2 linked regions of the Homo sapiens genome follow. Changing the gene in region 2 together with the main gene of any one other region gives a genetic interaction. Each region holds a gene or a part of one and is shown on either strand. Other genes may lie near its edges.

What was found. A genetic interaction does not mean that the proteins touch.
Region 1: of CTBP1 (region 2) and ACTL6B, changing one enhances a phenotype caused by changing the other (phenotypic enhancement), as found in Homo sapiens cells (one study listed by BioGRID).

The regions. Positions count from the first base shown.
Region 1 is NC_000007.14:100,646,379-100,654,008, reverse strand, and holds part of ACTL6B (actin-like protein 6B), read left to right. Parts: intron 1-3,873; coding exon 3,874-3,971; intron 3,972-5,185; coding exon 5,186-5,280; intron 5,281-5,346; coding exon 5,347-5,453; intron 5,454-6,475; coding exon 6,476-6,565; intron 6,566-6,724; coding exon 6,725-6,786; intron 6,787-6,923; coding exon 6,924-7,038; intron 7,039-7,177; coding exon 7,178-7,258; intron 7,259-7,362; coding exon 7,363-7,458; intron 7,459-7,630. UniProt on the Homo sapiens protein: Involved in transcriptional activation and repression of select genes by chromatin remodeling (alteration of DNA-nucleosome topology).
Region 2 is NC_000004.12:1,224,841-1,232,470, forward strand, and holds part of CTBP1 (C-terminal-binding protein 1), read right to left. Parts: exon of another isoform or gene 6,268-7,630; intron 3,504-6,267; coding exon 3,359-3,503; intron 727-3,358; coding exon 520-726; intron 1-519. UniProt on the Homo sapiens protein: Corepressor targeting diverse transcription regulators such as GLIS2 or BCL6. Has dehydrogenase activity. Involved in controlling the equilibrium between tubular and stacked structures in the Golgi complex.

The sequences.
Region 1 (7,630 bases), on a different chromosome or scaffold from region 2:
AGAGCGAGACTCTGTCTCAAAAAAAAAAAAAATTTAAAACCTCATTTAAAAAAATGTTCTTACCCACCTCCTTATAAATTCCTCTTTATAAAAGCAACTGTTTTTCTCCTTTTTAGCTAATGTTGGGGGTATTTTCTTCCATATCTCTAATACTACACTTAAATTGCTGCCTGTGGAGTGTTTAGTTTTAGGTATTATCGCTGAATTTTCCACTTTAGAAAATGATCGCTTAGCTCTCTTTTCCTCCCCAGCCTATGCCACACGTATTTCTTATCACCCTCCTTTAAGTACAGTGGGTTTTGTTGTTGTTGTTGTTGTTGTTTGGGGTTTTGTTTGTTGTTTGTTTTTGAGACTTTGCCTCAAAAACAGGGGGTCTGCTCAGTTTGTCACCCAGGTTGGATTGCAGTGGCACAATTCTTCAGCCTTGGTCTCCTGGGCTCAAGTGATCCTCTCATTTCAGTCTCCAGAGTAGCTGGAACTACAGGCATAAGCCACCATGCCCAGCTGATTTTTAAATTTTTTTTAGAGACAGGGTTTCATCATGTTGTCCAGGCTGGTCTTGAATTCCTGGGCTCAAGCAATCTGCCCGCCTCGGCCTCCCAAAAGGCTGGGATTACAGGCGAGATCCACCACACCCAGCCCAGTTGTATTTTAGACTTTAAAAGAAATCAGTATTCAGTATTTACATTCTTTTTAAATTAGAAATAATTTTAAGAGAATCTTTTGCAGAGATGGGGTCTCATCATATTGCCCAGGCTGGCTTCAAACTCCTGTGCTTAAGCGATCCTTCTACTTCAGCTAACAAAGTGCTGGGATTACAGGCATGAGTCACTGTGCTCAGCCCAATATTTACACTCCTATTACTATGTATGCTAATCAGGCCTGAGACAGGCAATACACCATGATCACCTTTCCTTTCTTGTGCAACTTTTTGTTTTCCTAGAACTGGAAAAAAAATGTGTTCAATTTTTTTTTTTTTTTTTTTTTTTTTTTTTTTTTTTTTTTTTTTGAGACGGAGTTTTGCTCTGTCACCAGGCTGGAGTGCAGTGGTGCGATCTCAGCTCACTGCAAGCTCCGCCTCCCGGGTTCAAGTGATTCTCCTGCCTCAGCCTCCTGAGTAGCTGGGACTACAGGTGCGTGCCACCACGCCCAGCTAATTTTTGTATTTTTAGTAGAGACGGGGTTTCACCATGTTGGCCGGGATGGTCTCGATCTCTTGACCTCGTGATCCACCGACCTTGGCCTCCCAAAGTGCTGGGATTACAGGCGTAAGCCACCATCCCAGCCCTGTGTTTGATTATATTTGGTCTGGTTTTCTATCTACTTAACAGTGTGAACCCTAAATCATTCATCAATTGTATCTTTTGTCAAGACGTCAATTCCATTAGATATTTTATCAATTTCTTTTTTTTTTTTTTTTTGAGACATAGTCTTGCTCTGTTGCCCAGGCTGGAGTGCCATGGCGCGATCTCGGCTCACTGCAAGCTCCACCTCCTGGGTTCTCCTGCCTCAGCCTCCCGAGTAGCTGGGACTACAGGTGCCCACCACCACATCCGACTAATTTTTTGTATTTTTTTTTTTTTTTTTGAGATGGAGTCTCACTCTGTTGCCCAGGCTGGAGTGCAGTGGTGCGATCTCGGCTCACTGAAAGCTCCATTTCTCCTGCCTCAGCCTCCCAAGTAGCTGGGACTCACACCATTCTCCTGCCTCGGCCTCCCAAGTAGCTGGGACTATAGGCACCCACCACCACGCCCGGCTAATTTTTTGTATTTTTAGTAGAGGCGGGGTTTCACCGTGTTAGCCAGGATGGTCTCCATCTCCTGACCTCGCGATCCGCCGGCCTCGGCCTCCCAAAGTGCTGGGATTACAGGCGTGAGCCACCACACCTGGCCTCTCATCAATTTCATTTCTTGAAGAAATTTCTTCAGGAGCCCACTGACCTGGTCCAGTTTGCACTAGTAGCCCTCTGCCAGGGGACAGACCTGTCATGCTGGCATCTTCCTTCACCATCATCTTGTAGAATCCTTTTGCCTCTGTCCTGGTTAGAAGTCCTGTTTCCTGTACTTGACTCCTTTTCTTGACTTATTCCTTTGTTTTCATGGAGCAGGTCCTTCAGTAACTGCCTTAGAAAGGTCATGAGAGGCCAGAGACAGTGGCTCACTCCTGTAATCCCAGCACTTTGGGAGGCCTTGAGTCCAGGAGTTTGAGACCAGCCTGGGCAATATACTGATACCTTATCTCTACCAAAAATATAAAAATTAGCTGGCCATGGTGGTGCATGCTTGTAGTACCAGCTACTCGGAAGGCTGAGGCAAGAGAATTGCTTGTACCCAGGAGGCAGAGATTGCAGTCAGCCTAGATCATGCCACTGAACTCCAGCCTGGGCGACAGAGTGAGACTCCATTTAAAAAAATAATTAATTAAATAATAATCTAAAAAAAAACTTTTTTTTTTTTTTGAGATGAAGTGTCACTCTTGTCCCCCAGGCTGGAGTGCAATGGCGTGATCTTGGCTCACTGCAACCTCCGCTTCCCGGGTTCAAGGATTCTCCTGCCTCAGCATCCCAAGTAGCTGGGATTACAGGCACCTCCCATCACACCTGGCTAATTTTTGTATTTTTAGTAGAGACGGGGTTTCACCATGTTGGCCAGGCTGGTCTCAAACTCCTGACCTCAGGTGATCTGCCCGCCTTGGCCTCCCAAAGCGCTGGGATTACAGGCATGAGCCACCGCGCCCAGCATCTAAAAAAAAAATTTAAAATAAGGTCATGGGAAGTATATTTTTTGAGACTTTTGTGTGTCTCACCTTGAGTTGATAGCTTAGCTAGGTATCCCATGCCAGGTTAGAAATCATTATTCTTCAGAATCTTGAAGGCACTTTTCCATTGTCCTTCTTCCAGCATATATCGTTGCCATTTAGAAGGATGAAACCATCTGATTTCTGATCCTCTGATGTAATGTTTTTCTTTCTGAAAGTTTATAGAATTTTTACTTTATCCTCAGTGTGGTGTATTTTCATTCATGGCTCTAGGCACTTAGTATGTCTCTTCATTCTGAAAACATATGTCTTTCAATTCAGTGAAAAAGAATTATTTATTTAATTATTTATTTCTCTCCATTTTCTCTCTTGGGATTTTCTGTTATTGGATTTTGTTGCCCCCTGAATTGGTCCCCTAATTTAATTCCCTTTTCTCTTATATTTTCCATCTCTTTACCTTTTTCCTTTGGTTTCCAAGATATTCCCTCCACTTTATGTTCCAATCCTTCTATTGAGTTTTTCATTTCTGTTCATGTAGTTTTAATTCCCACAAGCTCCTTACTTTAAATTTTTTTTTTAATGAGACAGCATCTCACTATGTTGTCCAGGCTAGTTTCGAACTCCTGGGTTCAAGCAATCCTCCTGCCTCGGCCTCCCAAAGTGCTGGGATTATAGGCGTAAGCCACCCTGTCTGGCCTGTGCAAATGTTTTAAATGCATGTGTGTGTGACTGTGAGTGTGAATATATGTGTATGTGTGTGTGTGAGTTTGTGTGTGAATGTGAGTATATATGTGTTTGACCGTGTGTTTGTGAGTGTGTTTGCATGTGTGACCGTGAGTGTATGTATAGTGTGAATGCATGTGTGTGTTTATGTGTGTCTGTGAATGTGAGTGTATGTGTGTGTGTTTGAGTGTATGTGTGTGTGTGTGCAAGTGAATGCATGTGTGTATGACCGTGAGTGTATGTGTGAGTGTTTAGGTTGTGTATGTGTGTGCAAGTGTTTGGATGTGTGTGTGTGACCGTGAGTGTATGTGTGAGTGAGTGGGTTGCGTGTGCGTGGATGTGGGTCTGTGCCTCTCCCTTCCTGAATCCTCCCCCTCTGCACTTTCTCCACAGTGGAACACACGGGCCAAGCGGGAGAAGCTGACAGAGCTGATGTTCGAGCAGTACAACATTCCTGCCTTCTTCTTATGCAAGACGGCTGTGCTCACCGCGTATCCTCTGGACTGAGCTGCTCTGACTGGGTGGAGGGCTGGGGTGGGGCCTGTGCTGAGCTCAGCTGTGATGAGCTGGAGGGTCAGGCCTGGTTCTCTGAAGATCAGTGTCCCAATGGGCAGACACCTCCCTCTGCCCCACTAGTGCAGAAGGCCCAGTGGACTGAGCACCTCCGACTCTGGGGTGGCCAGATCAGCGGCCCCTTTCGGTTCCCCGGATCAGGCTGAGCAGACAGTGAGCTGGGCCCGGGAGAGAGTAGGGGCTGGAACTGGACAGAGGAGGGAGACGTGTAGAACACTGCGGCAGTCCCTTCCCAAGAACTCCTTCAACACTGACTGTTTTTAGGATCTGCCTTGCATTGAACCCTGTGCTATGCACTGGGGTGATAGCGACCCTAATTTCAGGGAATCTGTAGGACACAACCAAAAATAAAGGGGCTGGCCAGGCGCGGTGGCTCACGCCTGTAATCCCAGCATTTTGGGAGGCCAAGGCGGGCAGATCACTTGAGGTCAGGAGTTAGAGACCAGTCCGGCCAACATGGCAAAAGCCCGTGTCTACTAAAAATGGAAAAATTAGCCAGGCATAGTGGTGGGCACCTGTAGTCCCAGCTACTTGGGAGGCTGAGGCAGGAGAATCTCTTGAACCCAGGAGGCAGAGGTTGCAGTGAGCTATTGCATTCCAGCCTGGGCGACAAAACGAAACTCAGTTTCAAAAAAAAAAAAATAACTAAAGAAGTAACTGGGGTCGCCGGGTGTGGTGGCTCATGCCTGTAATCCCGGCACTTTGGGAGGCCGAGGCGGGCAGATCACGAGGTCAGGAGATCGAGACCATCCTGGCTAACACGGTGAAATCCCATCTCTACTAAAAATACGAAAAATTGGCCGGGCGTGGTGGCAGGCACCTGTAGTCCCAGCTACTCGGGAGGCTGAGGCAGGAGAATGGCATGAACCCGGGAGGCGGAGCTTGCAGTGAGCTGAGATTGCGCCACTGCACTCCAGCCTGGGAGACAGCAAGACTCCATCTCAAAAAAAAAAAAAAAGAAGTAACTGGGGTCTCAGAGCCTTTCTCCAGGAGATGAGTCATCACCAGGGGGAGAGATTTGCAGACTGGGGATGGGCTGGACCCCGGTAGAGCAGAGAGTGACCAGACAAGATCTGGGCCCAGGCCCCTCACTTGCTGCTGCTGTCTCTTTGACTTACCCATCCGATGCCAGCTTTGCAAACGGGCGGTCCACTGGCCTCGTGCTGGACAGTGGAGCCACCCACACCACGGCCATTCCAGTACATGACGGCTACGTTCTGCAGCAAGGTGGGGCTTCGGCAGGGGGTGGGGGTGCTCCAGGAGGACCAGGTCCTGACAGTGCCTTCCTTCTAGGCATCGTCAAGTCCCCTCTGGCAGGGGACTTCATCTCCATGCAGTGCCGGGAGCTGTTCCAGGAGATGGCCATTGACATCATCCCACCTTACATGATCGCAGCCAAGGTGGGGCCTCTGGGGACATGGAGCTGCCACTAGAGTCCTGGCCACTCGCCCCATGGCCGTCAACCCTCTGACACATGAGATATCAGAGCAGAGAGCAGCAGGCTCCCCAGTGGGTCCTGGCTCCAGTTCCTCCTTTTATAATCGAGGCATCCGAAATCCAGACAGGCTGAGGGATATGCTGAGGTCATGAAACCAGCTGGCAGACAGCAGGATGTGTGAGGGCCAGTGTGGTGGGTTCTAGGGTCCAATATAGACCCAGGTTCAAGTTCTGCCTCTGCCGTGCAAGAGCTGCAGGACCGGTCAGGCATGGTGGCTCACACCTGTAATCCCAGCACTTCGGGAGGCTGAGGCAGGCAGATCGCTTTGAGCTCACTTCGAGACCAGCCTGGGCAACATGGTGAAGCCACGTCTCTACTAAAACTGCAAGAACTAGCCAAGCATGGTGGTGCATGCCTGTAGTCCCAGCTACTTGGGAGGCTGAGACTGGAGAATCACCTGAACCCCGGAGGCAGAGGTTGCAGTGAGCCGAGATCGCGCCACTGCACTCCAGCCTGGGCGACCGAGTGAGACTCCATCTGAAAAAAAAAAAAAAAAAGAGCTGTGTGACCAACAGCATGATATCAAAGCTCCCTGGGCCTCAGGTTTGTCTTATGTAAAGTGGAACGGCAGTAGGCAGTAGCCAGGGTGCTGTGAGTATGAAGTGACACTGTGTGCTTAGCTCCATTCCGTGCCCTCACATGGATCATGACCCCCTAGGAGGCCATTCCCTTGAGGTTCTGTCACTGCTGTATTCCTGGTGTTCTCCAGATCAGCTGCACCCACCGCATGAAAGGCACACATGGAGAGAGAGGCATGCCCCATTCTCTCTCCTCTCCATCAGGGAAGGGTGAGAAACCCCTCTTGCAGGCAGCACAGCAGAGCCTGCAGCGCCAGGTAGCTGCAGAGCTGGGAACAGTGCCAGGAAGGTGGGGGTGGGGGTCAGGTGGGCTAGGAAAGGGTGTTCCTACACTGTGCCCCCACAGGAGCCTGTCCGGGAGGGTGCCCCCCCAAACTGGAAGAAGAAGGAGAAGCTACCCCAGGTCTCCAAGTCCTGGCATAACTACATGTGTAATGTGAGCCTCTGGAGAGGGCCACCTGAAACCCCCCTCCCCTGCCATGAATCGGGGGCGGGACAGAGGCCCCGCATGGGAGGGGGAGCAGGGAGGGGGAGCGGGGCAGGGGGTGCTGCTCACGGGGAAGGCAGGCCCTCACCACCTCCGCTGGGATTTCAGGAGGTGATCCAGGACTTCCAGGCCTCCGTGCTGCAGGTCTCAGACTCCCCCTACGATGAACAGTGAGTGTGGCTCAGGGCTTTGGGGTGGGAGAGAGGGCAGAACCGGCACTCTTGGGGTGGGCTGGGGGGCTCTGGTGCTGCCCACGCACTGATCCTTCTTGAGCACCCCAGGCAGAGTCCTGCTCCCTTCTGGGTAGGGTGGCTGCACAAATGCCCACAGTGCACTACGAGATGCCCAATGGCTACAATACAGACTACGGCGCCGAGCGACTCCGCATCCCTGAGGGCCTGTTTGATCCCTCGAACGTCAAGGTTTGGCTGTGTGGCGAGGACTGGGGTGGGTGCTGGCTGCAGTCCCTGGATCCTGGGGCGTGGGGGAGGCTGGGAAGGATTGCAGGGGTCTGGGGGGAAGGGGGAGAGAGCCCACAGCCCCAGTCACCTCTCTCTGCAGGGCCTGTCGGGGAACACCATGTTGGGTGTGGGCCACGTGGTGACCACCAGCATCGGCATGTGTGACATTGATATTCGCCCGGTGAGGCCAGGCCGGAGCTGAGGCTCGGCAAAGGGGCCCAGGGGAAGTGGGGAGACGGGGTTGGGGGGCTGCCCCCGCAGCTCACTCCTTCTCCCTGCTCTCAGGGCCTGTACGGGAGTGTCATTGTCACCGGCGGGAACACACTGCTGCAGGGCTTCACTGACAGGCTCAATCGAGAGCTTTCCCAGAAGACCCCACCGGTAGGAGCCCACCCCTGACCCAGAGCCCTGGACACCCGTCCTGGCTCAGCTGTCCAGGACTGAGTCCCTTCATCCTTCCCATGTCCTTCCTTCTGTTCTGGCCACCAGAGCAGAACCCCTGCCCCTGTGGCTTCCCAAGTCTTCCCCTCTCCCCCAAGCCCTGTCCCTTCCC
Region 2 (7,630 bases):
GTGAGGCCCACATGTGTGCTGTGGCATCTATGACATCCGTGCAGGCCAGTATGTGTACTGTGACATCGGTGTGTGATGTCTGTGTGTGCCATGATGTCTGTGTGAGGCCCACATGTGTGCTCTGATTTCTGTGTGAGGCTGTGTACTGTGACATCCGTGTGTTATCTATGTGCCCATGAAGCCCATGTGAGTGCTGTGACGTCCGTGTGTGTTATCTGCATGTGCCCATGAGACCCACGTGCTGTGATGTCTGTGTGAGGCTGTGTGTGCTGTGGCATCCGTGTACGTTATCTGTGTGTGCCTGTGTGAGACCCACGTGTGCTGTGACGTCCGTGCACGTAGGGCACACGCCTGGGACTCCCGGGCCCTGGTGCCTGTGCGCACTCAGTCCTGTCCTGGGTTGGGACCGACACCTGCAGCAGCCCCACCCCGCCCCGGGCCTCTCCTCCTGGGCACAGCTGAAGAGCGGCAGCGCCAGACACAGGGAGGGACACAGGCGTGGAGCTGCGGCCGACGCACCAAGTCCGATGATGCCCAAGGTCTCCCCGCGGATCCTGGCAGCGCCGGACGCCACCTCGCGGATCTGCTCGACGCTCTGGACTCGTGTGCCCTCCCGCAGCGCCTGGTGCAGCCAGGTGGCCCGCCGGTACAGGTTCAGGATGTGGCACAGCGTCGAGTCGGCCGTCTCCTCCACAGACGCCGCGGGCACGTTGCAGACGGCAATGCCTGTGGGGACAAGGACACGGCGGTCACCCCCGGGCCGGGCCCAGCCTCCGGGAGGACACCGGGGCCGCCGTGACTGGAGCGGGTTTGAAGCTTCCCAAGGAAGAAGCCAAAGGCCGTGTCCCCAAGGCCACCCCGGGAGGCCACGAGATGAACACGTTGCTCACAGGTCGGGCGCAACAGAGCAACTCCAGGAGCCCCACCTCCACTTTAGGTTCACGTGGCAGCACACACACGGCAACTGCTCGGTGTGTGGTAGGGCTGGGGTGTGAGACGCTGCCCTGACCCCTCCCGACTCAGCGCTGGCAGCCCAGGAAGAGACAAGCACGTGTCTCCCCGCGTCACCTCGCCACCCCGATTCCTCTCGGGGGTACCCTGCTGGGAGGCTGTGGCCAGGTCAGAATCTGGGTGCCGGCCCCGCCTGCACACCCCTACGTGGACATCCGCACATGTCCTCAGGCCTCCCCCAGGCCCAGCCGGGCCCCGAAGCCCCTTCCGCCCTCCATGCCCCACCCCTGCAGTCGGTAACACTGAAGCTGGAGCCATTCCTGGAAAGCAAGTCCATCCCATTTCTCCCGAGTGGCCAGGCACGCCCATGTGTGACCCCTACTCCCCGCTCCCGGCCTTGTCCCCAGAGACAGGCCCTTCCCCAGCCAGTGCCCCTCCCTGAGCCTATTTACCCTCATCCCTGGCTTGTCCCTGGCCAGGGCCGCCCCTGCACGGCACTTCCCACCCCATCCGGATGATTGCATTCCTGTGTCCGACTGGCCATCCGTCTCCCTGGGGAGGAGGAGGGGGCAGGAGGCCAGGACAGGGCTGCATTCATAGGCCCGGAAGCTGGACAGGACCGTGTGGTTCCGCAAGGGGTCCCGGGGGCCGGGAGAGGGCCTGATGTGGGGCGGCGCAGGCAGGGGCTGCATAGCCCCTAGACACAACTCACTTGGACGTAAAAATGTTAAACAAGGGAGACTGAGGGAGAGCCAAGCCAGGCGCCACACGAGATTGGAACAAAGACCTCCTGAGGGTGGGCCAGATCCCAGGGGTGCCCCAGACCATCCCTGGCTGAAGAACAGAGCCCAGGCCTGGGAAACTCCACGGGTAACAGAGATGGTAAACAGCAGGGACCCCTCAAAAAGCACCAGGCATGCACCCGACACCACACACCCAGGCCTGCACCCGACACCGCAGCCGGCCCTTCCTGGGACGCCACCACAGAGACAAAGGCGGGAGGAGGCTGGCACACAGGTTTGGCCCATGGGCGCCGGCGGAAGCAGCTGAAGCCAGTGCAGGAGACCCCCAGATGGAGGCATGGCTTCCGACACCACCTGCGTCCCCCGCAGGAACACAGACGGTTCCAACTTTGCAATGCCATAAACTGTATCCTAGGAAAAGGGAAGCAAAACCGTGAGGCGCTGGCCAACTGTGGGCAAGGGCAGGGTACAACCTCGCCTGTTACCAGCATCGAGAGGAGGAGAAAAAACAGACCGAGCCTGGCAGAAAACAGAAAGTGCGCTCCAAGCAGGACGGCCAAGCACCGCCCCAAGTTTGTTCTAATGAGTGTCTGTACATGGATGCAGACACATGTGCATGTTCCATGTGCGTGTAGGTGCACGGGTGCAGACGTGCGTGTTCCATGAGTGTTCCATATGCTGAGTGCACAAGCAGAGGTGCATGTGTTCTGTGTGATGAGCATGTGATCCATGTGCTGAGTGCGTGTGCACAGGTGCAGATGAGTGTGCGTGATCCGTGTGCTGAGTGCATGTGCACGGGTGCAGATGAGTGTGTGTGTTCCATGTGCTGAGTGCACATGCACGGCTGCAGATGTGCGTGTTCTGTGTGTGTTCTGTGTGCTGAGTGTGCGTGATCCGTGTGCTGAGTGCGTGTGCACGGGTGCAGATGAGTGTGCAGGATCCGTGTGCTGAGTGCATGTGCACGGGTGCAGATGAGTGTGCGTGTTCCATGTGCTGAGTGCACATGCATGGCTGCAGATGTGCGTGTTCTGTGTGCTGAGTGTGCGTGATCCGTGTGCTGAGTGCATGTGCACGGGTGCAGATGAGTGTGCAAGATCCGTGTGCTAACTGCATGTGCATGGGTGCAGATGAGTGTGCGTGTTCCATGTGCTGAGTGCACATGCACGGATGCAGATGTGCGTGTTCCGTGTGTGTTCTGTGTGCTGAGTGTGCGTGATCCATGTGCTGAGTGCACAGGTGCAGACGTGTGTGTTCTGTGTGCTGAGTGCACACGTACTGGGTTGCAACACGCTGCTGTTCCCGCTGTGTCTCGGGACAGAGACCTATGAGCCCTATTACAGCCATACACTGACGGCCCTGCCCTCACCCCCAGGGTCCCAGTACCCAAGCAAGGGGCACCAGCCAGACATGCATGCAGACCTGTGTGAAGCCACAGCTGGATTTCCTGCTGCCCAAAAGAGAGGAAGTGCCCTGAGATGAGGCTCTGTGAGGAACTGAATGGCTGCAACCTCATGCCGGCCCCAGACGGGACCACGAACCACCGCCAGCCACACCAGGCAATGTGCAACGGGGTCCTCAGTGTGGCAGTGAAGCCTCCATGGACGAAGCAAGACGGGACGGAGCTTGCATGAATGGGCACAGGAGAGAACTCGGAGCCGGCCTACCTAAATCCCCGGCCGACTTGATGTCGATGTTGTCAAAACCACTGCCAATCCGGACGATGATGCGGAGGGCTTTGAACTTCTCCAGGTCCTCCCTGGTGAGAGTGATGGTGTGGTACATCAGGGCCCCCACAGCCTCGTTCAGGACCTGCAGCGAGAAAGCACACAGGCTCAGCCCGGAACCTGAAGACCCTCGGGCTTGGCCTTCGGGGGTGGGGCTGCCCCGGCTGGGAAATTAGCCTGTGGCCCTCAGGCTTGTTCCCCAAGCACCAGCCCGGACACTGGGAGAGGCTACATGAAGGCTTCCCCGCCACGCGCGGCCCCTCAACCTCTGCCCAGGCGTCCTGAGTCCCAGCAATTCCCACCGCAGCCTCCTCAGCCGCATGTAGGCTGCAGGCCGGCACTGGTCAGAGTTGCCCGCTCCCCACTGTGGTGGCTGAGATGTCTCCTTTTGAGCGTGCGCCCCACCGAGACTCTGCTCAGCCTTGTGGAAGAAACGGGGTCCCGCCTGGCGAGGACACAGGAGGGGGGGTGCGGCCACACCCAGGAAGGACACTGAGCAGGTGCAGCTGGGTGGGGTGGCCAGGGAACCTGAGACCTGCAGGCCCGGGGATGCAGGTAGAAAGTGGTAAGTCCCCGCGGCACACAAGCACGTCGGCGGAGGCAGGCAGACGCCACCCAGCCGTAAGGATACATCCACAGGAGCATGCACTGCCCCCGTGTCGCCCAAGAACCTGCCCAGAAATGCTGCCCCTGGCTGGCGAGGCTTGGGTCTGAGCAGTGTTCACAACAGTCACGTTTTTAATTTCAGTGTCCATGACAACTCTTAGACCGGAACAGCTCCCGCGAACAAAGACCTGGCACACAGCACAGCAGCCCAACCCTGGCGCCTCCACTCAGCCAGTACATGGCATCGCTGTGGTCACGGCCAACCCCACCCTGCCAAGGGCTCCCAGTTACCCCCAGCCCAGGGAGGGCAGGGGCAGTGTGGGGTGCAGAGGCACACAGGTGGAGGAAGTGCCCTAGGCCGAAGAACCAGGTGCAGCACTGGGCACAGGGTGGGGATGTGTGTGCACCACCTGCGCATCCACCCACACCCAAACACATCCACCCGCACACGTCCATCCCACACTCCCGTGCATGACAACGCCCACCCACGGGTGCAGAGATGCTCTGTGCGAACAGCCGTGGCTGAGGACACCAGGACATGCAGGCCTCGTCCACATGGGCATGTCCGAGTCCCCGGAGACACCAGTGAGCCTCCCATGTGGACATGACTCCCACCCACCACCTGTCCAGCGGGGCCCCAGGTACTCCTGACGGATCAATGGCGCAGGCTCAGCACAGAGGTTGCCGGGGCCTAGGTGGCGTCTTTCCCTCCCTTCCTGCCGAGCATGGAGCCTGTGGATCCCGGGCGGCAGTGCCTGGGTTGCTGGACCGCAGGGCGTCCTGTGGGAGCTGACCCTGCCTGGGTCCTGGGCAGAGCAGCTGGTGTTGGGCAGGCATACGTGGGCAGGGTGAGGGCAGCCCCCAGGAAGACGCTCACCACCCAGCTGCAACCCCTTCTCCTACAGTGCCCGGACCTCCAGCTTAGCCAGAACAGATGATTCCCTTTGAGGCTGGCACAGCCTCCCTTCCCTCCTGCCCACCGCAGGGGACCTAGAGGAGAGGACCATGGAGGACCACACAGACCAGGGCCACAGCAGAGGCTGGGCAGCAGGGGAGGGGAGCCCTGGGCTAGCCTGGGCATTCTCCAGGAAGAAGGGAAGGTTGGAGCACCTCGGCTGCAGGAGGCAGGGAGGCATCTACCCGGACCACAGAGGAACAGGTGTGTGTAACACTCATCAGTTCATGGACAGGGCTGATGGCTGCCCCGGGCCTCCTGGGAGGGCTTTGAGGCTGCATGCATGCAGACCCCTGGTGCACCAGACGCAGTGTGGACGGGGTGACCCCTGGTGCACCAGATGCAGTGTGGACGGGGTGAACCCTGGTGTACCACACTTGACCAGACGTAGTGTGGACGGGGTGAGGCCACAAGGACAGCATGGGCAGGCAGAGGCCAGCAGTGGGCGACTGGTGCACAGCTGTGGTGGAGGCGAGCGGTGCGGCCAGGAAGACCCCTGCGCTGCGTGGACTGGAGATGGGCGCCCACACACCAAGGAGGTGCTTCGGGCAGCCTGGCAAAGCAGCCGCAGCTAAGAGAGAGTCACCTGCAGATGAAGCTTCGTCGGCACCCACTGTGGGCAGGAGGGGCTGCGCATGCGAGCGGTGGGCAGAGGCGCAGTGGGAGATGGGCCCTGGGGTCAGGGACAGGCCTGGTGCCAGACGTGAGCCCGGGGGGCTGGCCTGGGCAGCTGGATGTGCAGGGGCCACTTCCACAGTGTGTGTGCAGAGGCTCGGCATGGACAGGCTGGACAGACCCACACCACACAGGCTTGTGTGTACGCAGGCAACAGCCTGCTTTCACCCGGAGCACTGGCCACGGGCCTCGAAAAGTCGATTCTGAACCGCGGCACGTCACCTCCCGCACATTCGGAGGAGACAGCGATCAGATTCACGTGAATATGACGAATATTCATCCGCGCAGCCTTAAGGTTGCTTCCTGCATCGGCTCTTCCGTGATGAAAATCTATCTCATCTAGGTAAGCTCGGAGAAGCCGAAGCGTGCGCCGGCCAAGGGCCCTCCTTTGGGCTCCGGGCGCGCCCACCCAGCTGAGCTGTGAAGCGCAAGCTGCCTCCCCGACGAGGCTTTCATCACTTGCCTGTGCACGATTCTTAATACACTTTTTTCAGGTCCTTGCCCTTTTCCCTACTGAATACAGGTTTAACAACATAGTATTAGGTGAAAGCATTCTCACTACAGGAATCTGAACATGGCTGGGGCACCCCATGCCCCGACCTCCACCACGTACCAGGTTGGCCTGTGCTCAGCTGCAGGGCCACAGCTGCTAGCATGTGCGCTTTACCACGTGGCGGCCACGTCATCCACAGGTCCACAGGCCAGGGTGCCACAGCGGCTCAGCCTCAGGGTCTACCTTCCTTTCCCCCTCGTGGCTGCCACGTGGCTGCTCCACCCCGCCTGTTGCATTGGTCTCCCACGGAGAAAGTCTGCAGGAGGTGGGTGCAGCCAGGTGTGTCCCTTTAGATCGGGGCCCAGCAGCCTCCCAGAAACCACCTCAAGCCAACACCCACTGATGTGTCCCCTCCACCGCCAGGGGCTCAGCCCCACTCTGCTCAGTGCCCTCAACTCCAGTGCTCAGAGCAGGCTGGGGAAAGCTGGGTGCCCAGGAAGCTCGGCTGCCACCGGGCTGGAAACAGACCCCAGGACGCTCCTGGTGGCAGCTGGCTCTTGGGGGTCAGGAAGGGGCCCGCCAAGCCCACCTCCTGCCATGCAGTTCTGCCACCTGCTTCTGTGCTCAGGACTCGACGTCGCACTTACCTTTCCAGACCTCGTGCACAGGGGTGGCTTACTCTGTGAAACTGCTGCTCACATCAGGTCACCATCAGGGCAGATGTTTCTCTACGACACGCAGCCACATGCAGGCCCAGGGTGGGGCTGGGCTGAAGACCGCAGGTTTCAGATTTCCAGAGAAACTGCCAAAGCACCATCGAGACCGGCACGGCCGTTTCTATCCCACATGAAGGGCCAGGCCCAGGCTCCCTCAGCACGGCTGGTGCAGGGCTCAGCGCAGGCCAGGCCAGGGGTTACCGGCGGTGCCTGCTGCACCTGTGAGAACCCAGGAGGCGCACCCCGGTTCTCATACACCGCTCTGTCTGTACCAAACGCCACCGCCCTCATCCATTTTCTGTCGGGATTTTTCTGTTTCTACTGATTGGGAGGAGTCTTTGAATATATAAACTTTTTCATTTACTTATTTTACAGACAGGACCTCGCTGGACTGCAGTGGTGTAATCATGACTCGCTGCAGCCTTGACCTCCTAGGCTGAAGCGATCCTCTGGCCTTGGCCTCTGGATACGCTGGGATGACAGGCACAGCCCCTGCACCAGCTCTGAGTGTTATCAGACATTCACCCTTAGGCTGGCACACAAATTGAAAATACCCAACCCCTACCTCTCCCGTTTTTATTTTTTAAATTTATTTTGCTATGTCATTCTTTCTTTTTTTCCTTTTTGAGACAGAGTCTTGCTCTGTTGCCCAGGCTGGAGTGCAGTGACACGATCTTGGCTCACTGCAACCTCTGCCTCTTAGGGTCAAGAGGTTCTCCTGCCTCAGCCTCCTGAGTATCTTGGACTACAGGCGCGCACCACCACGC